2 separate regions of the Homo sapiens genome follow, and region 1 is linked to region 2. A link means that fine-mapping ties the variant in region 2 to the expression of a gene that starts in the linked region. Tissue or cell type: tibial nerve. Region 2 holds a variant in brackets; the other region holds the start of a gene. All regions are shown on one strand. Distances are from middle to middle.

Evidence for each region. PIP is the estimated chance that this variant, and not a neighbour inherited with it, causes the effect.
Region 1: it holds the start of KATNIP, and the variant in region 2 is fine-mapped to the expression of KATNIP in tibial nerve (GTEx, PIP 0.92).

What each region holds. Positions count from the first base shown.
Region 1 is chr16:27,549,076-27,551,575 of GRCh38, forward strand. KATNIP (katanin interacting protein) reads left to right here and starts at 1,069. Exons shown (of 28, transcript NM_015202.5): 1 at 1,069-1,102. The coding sequence starts at 1,096. GTF3C1 (general transcription factor IIIC subunit 1) reads right to left here and starts at 838. Exons shown (of 37, transcript NM_001520.4): 1 at 595-838. The coding sequence starts at 815. RefSeq lists enhancers at 735-814, 825-934.
Region 2 is chr16:27,633,741-27,636,500 of GRCh38, forward strand. All of the region lies in intron 5 of KATNIP (katanin interacting protein), which reads left to right. Among named protein-coding and RNA genes, the nearest start is that of KATNIP, 85 kb to the left of the region's middle. RefSeq lists an enhancer at 1-599. The variant T/C (reference allele first, on the strand shown) is at 1,203.

The DNA of each region.
Region 1 (2,500 bases), 85 kb before region 2:
CCTGGGAGGCGGACGGAGGTTGCAGTGAGCCAAGATCGCGCCACTGCACTCCAGCCTGGGCCACAGAGAGAGACTCTATCTCAAAAAAGAAAAAAAAGAACAGCACCTCACCCATGAAGTCCCTGATAAATGTCAGCTTTTAGCATTATCGCTAATTGTCCTGATACGCAGATCTCGAGTTGCCCTAGGCTATCTGCACCGAATGAATATACCATGAGGGTCTGTTGATCTCAGGAGTCTCCAGTCTGGCTCTAAAGTGTCTTTCCTGCTCTAATCCTATCCTCCAATGTAAAGGAAACATTCTTTTAAGCCTGAAGAATATCCCCAATCCTGTTCGCCATTACCCCAAAACACACACAGGGACAAAACGGGACATCACTAGATTCTCCCCCTCCCCCCGCCAACTCCATCGGACTCCAGGGCCCTGCCAGGCCTGAGGGACCCCAGATTAGCCTTACCGCCGTGCCCCAACTCAATCAACAGGCCTCCGGTACTTGCACAGCCCCACTCCATTCCCCCGCCCTGCCCCCAGCTCCATCAGCCCCCGGGCCCTGCGCCCGCCCGCCCGCCCGCCAGGCCAGGCCGCCCGCTGACCGGTCCTGGAGCTGTAGGTCGGGTCGCTCCCGAGGCTCCTCATAGAAGCTGATGCCCGGGTGCGTGGCGAGGGCCCGCCAGAGAAACTCCTGCGTGCAGGGTTCCAAAGGCAGCGGGAAGGGCGGCACTCGCGTCTCCAGCCGGCTCCACAGCGCTGGCAGACACAGGCCATCGAGCCCCTCCAGAGCGACTTCGTCCAACAACGACTCCAGCGCGTCCATTGCTACTTCAGTCGGCGGCGCCCGGGGCGCATGCGCAACGCACCGCCAAGGGCCTTGGTCCATCGCGCCTGCGCACAACGATCCGGGGCCCGGGGAGGTGGGTCAGACCCAGGGTTCGGAGGAGGAGTTCCAGCGCGCCGGCATGACGTCACTCCCCGGGGGCGGGCTCAGTAAGTGGAGCTCCACCGTCATTGGTCCGGGGCCCCGCAGTAACCAGGGGAACTGCAAACAGTGTAGAGGCCGCTTCCGGTTCGAGCTCCCGGAACCGCCGCCTCTAGGGATGGACGGTGAGTGTCTGTGGGCCCCTCCGGGAGGTCGGGCTGTTATTCTCCCATCCCTCCCGACCGCGCTTTGGGCAGAATCCTAGGCCATGAACCCCTGGACCACCACTTCCTGACCCAAGGGGGTCTCCGAAATGAGGGATAGGGAGGCTTAGTGGTCTGGAACGCGGAGGAGAGCCTGGGGGAGTGGTCAGTGCTGTGACCATTCTGCTCGGCTGTGGTCGTGAAGGAAACCGGTACTGGCCGGGAGCTCAGTGAAGGGATGTAGGGTGGGGAAGGAGAAGTAGAGGTCTGAGGAGGGTCTTGTGAATGTTGGGATGTGGAACTGTCGGATTTGGGAGTTGATATGAAAACAAGCTTGATCGTGGGAGTGCAATCGTCAGGTGCTGGGAAAGGGAATTGGTGTGGGGGGTGAAGGGAGTTTAGGAAATACTCCCTTTCTGTGCCTTGGCGTTAATAATAATAGCTCCCTTTAACAAAGTGCTTTCCAGTACCAAGAACTCTGTAAGTACTCTTGGGCAACACCTCGCTAAGCTTCATACCAGCCTTTTGAGTTCAGCGTTGTTCCATTTTACAGATGATGAAACTGAGGCTCAGAGGTGTTAAGGAACTTGCCCAAAGTCAAACAACCAGCATGTAGCAGAGTGAGTGAGAAACCCAGACACCCTGTCTCTGGAGCTGAATTATGGAGCTTGAGATTTGGACCGGTTTTGAGGGTCCCTTTATTCCAGAGGTTGTAAATGCAGATGTCTGCAGAGGAGAGTCTAGTGAGCCGGATTGAGGCTGTAACTGAAAATCAATTCCTCACCTGAAAGGAAAGCTGCTCACCAAGCACCAGCTGATTGTCCTCTTGGGGTACTTCTCAAAAACAGGGTTGGCCAGTCACTCTGAAGGCCAGAGACAGCTTGTGGGCCCCCATTTAGGGATCCCTGATTAGAGTCATGGTATTGACAATTGGAAGCAAATGGAAAATAGGCTATTCTGATATCTCACTTTGCAGATGGGAAGACTAAAGTCTAGAGAGACTGGTAGGGTCTGGGCTAGAGTCCAGATCATTTTTCTAATTACAGCACTGTCCCTCACTTCTCGGGAATTTGTTCCTGGGGAATCCACATTCTTTTTATATTCACTGAATGTAGTGTGGAGAAAATGTTTTTAATTGAACATTCTGTCATATGCTTAAAATATATCTTTTCCCTTTGTACTTTAGAGGTACTATAAAATGTGCTTTACCATTTTGCCTTCTGGAAAGGTCAATGTAATGTTGCTATAGAACATCAGTCCTCAAACCTTTTAAGCCTTGGGACCCCTGTATGCTCTTACCTCAAAGAGCTTTGTTTATTTATATTTATGATATTTACCATATCGAAGATTTAAACTGGGAAAATCTTAAGATGTCCATTA
Region 2 (2,760 bases):
TCATTGTGCTACTGAAGAAATCAAGGCCAAGAGAGGTAAGGTGACTTCCTTAGAGTTGCATAGCTACTAAGGAAGAGGGCAGGCTGGGATTTGAACTCTGGGCTGTGGTTATAAACCCAGTGATCTTTCTGCCTCCCCACAGGGGCATCTTCAAGTCATTGATTAACTGGGGAAGGGTGTCCCTGCCTGATCTCAGTGCTGAGGAGCAAGGCCTGGAGGACACACAGCCTGGAGGCCTCCTTTTGTCCCCTGCAATGAATATTAATTTGTTGCTAATGAGGCCTTTCTTCACTTCTCACTTAAGACAGTTCTTCTACTTGTTTTGAGAGCCTTCTATTATCAGGAGCCATATTTGTGTCTTAGATTGTGGCTTAATAGCTGGCCCTAGAGTCTGTGCAATTTAAAAAACTTGGCCTAAGATTAATTAGCATCCTCCTCAGTCTCTCCTTGTGGTCCCACACTTCACAGGGCCTAATCATAGCTAATTTCCTGATTTCCTGATGCCTCGAGGGCTGTAATTGTCCTTCTACACTGTATCAGTCAGGGGTCAGTCAGTGCCTAACAGCAGAGACCACTCAGGCTATTTTAAGCAGAAACAAATGCAGTGCAGGGAGTCGGGTGCTTACGAAGTCCTTGGGCTAGCATGAGGAGGGGACTCTGGGCTGGGCCTCTAGGAATGGTGCCTCAAAAGCATGGCCACTTAGCCTGGGCCTGCCAGGAGAGCGGCTGCCTAGGACACCATTGGGAAGGTGGGGTATCAGCATCAGGAAGGTGTCACCTTAGCTGCAATCCAGGAATCAGGGAGTTACTGCCCCAGCTGTTGGCCTCAGAGTGACTCCATGCCTGCTGGGACAGCGCTATGAAGACCCTGCCCCGCAGCCTGGCTAGCCAGTCAGGAACATTATGGAAGAACTCCATGCCCTGTGCTTAGCACTGAAACAGCCAACATCTATCCCCCTCCTCTCCTCACCTCACTTCTGCTTTCCCTGGCTCGTGTGAGGCCATCTGATTGGCTGAACCTAAATCACACCCAGAACCCAAGCCAAAATGTAACCATAATAGGTCCATTGCACGATGCTGGCAAGTCTATACACATAGACCCTGGGTTTCAGCAGAGAGAGAGATTTAATTGTAGGGCCGCCAAACGAGGAGATGGAAGGAAACCTCAAATCTGTCTCCCGGAGGAGTTTGGGGCCAGTGTT[T/C]TTAAGGGTTTTGGAGTAGGCTGATGTGTGGAGATCATTGATTGGTGGAAGAGTGCAGGGGGAAGTCACGGGACAGGGAGATGAAGAAGCTGTGTTCTCACGCAGATCCCGTTCTTCTGTGGGGGGCCTTCAAACTGGCTAGCGTGAGTTGTTTTGCTGGAATTTAAGATCTGAAAAACATCTTAAGCAATTCTTAAACAAAAGCCTTAATGATTCTACAGTCAGAAATCTATAAGGAATAATGGGAATGCTAATGGTCAGTATCCAGTGAATTTCAGTTACAAGGAAGTGGGTCAAAGTGCAGTGATTAATGCTGAATTATAACTATATTCTGTGAGAATTCTTGTTAACCCTGTGAGGACAGCTTTAGAAAGGGAGTCTGGGAAATGCAGTATTTGGCTTTCTGGCCTCTACCCCACAGAAAGGCTCCCCAGGAGGAGTGTGGGATGGGTACCGAGAGCCGGCCCCCTCCAGTCTAGAGCATGGACTCTGCTCCACACACCCAGGCTTTTGGGAACCAACCTTAAAGATAGACACAAACCAGGGAGCATTCAAAAGTGGTGAATGAACTACATGTGTCATGAATGAAATCATCTGTTAATTTAACAGACATGTATTGATACCCAGCAGGGCCCAGGCACTGTGCAAGGCTCTAGGGTTCAAAAAAAAAAAAAATTCAAGAAGGCTCAGTTCCTGCCTTTGAAGCTCGGGCTGTGAAGACATGGGGACTGCTTAACTGGGAGGAGGGTGTGACACCTGACTTCAAATACATGGATGGCGGGCCTGGCGGGGTCCAGAAGTTAACCACTTGAAGCCTGTGGGTCAAACTTGCCCCCAGATAATGGTTGTTGGGCTCATACAGCTTTTAAAAGACTTTTCGAAGCTTGCCAACATTTAAATTAACAAGATTTTATATTAAAAATATATCTAGCCAGGTGCAATGGCTCATGCCTCTAATCCTAGCACTTTGGGAGGCCGAGGAAGGAGGATCACCTGAGCTCAGGAGTTCAAGACCACCCCAGGCAACATAGTGAGTCCCATCTCTACTAAAAATAAAAAAATTAGCCAGGCATAGTAGCGCACACCTCTAGTCCCAGCTACTGAGGAGGCTGAGACAGTTAGGATCGCTTGAAGCCAGGAGTTCAAGGGTGCAGTGAGCCATGACCGCACCACTGCACTCTAGCCTGGGGGACAGAGCAAGACCCTATCTCAAAATCAAAAATCTAGATCTCTTCTTCCCTGGAAAAAATGGAAAAGTCTGGCCCCCACGCTGGGCCATCCTCCTCCCCACTAGGCAGCCAGCAGCAGGAGCCAAGTCCAGCTACTGCCTTTGGATAGGGCATGAGCTTTCCTGTTTGCCAAAGTCCCCACCACTCCCCAGAGCTTCAGTGGTGAGGCTGAGTGGTAGCTGTGGTTTATTATCAGATTTAGGCTATGATTTCTCTTATCTCGTGTTTCCATTTCCCGTCTGGTTCTTTGGGGCATTTGAATTTGTAGCCCCTGGAGAGTGGAAGGAGTAGGCTTTGGACTGCTCACTGGCTGTGTGTCCTGGAGCTGG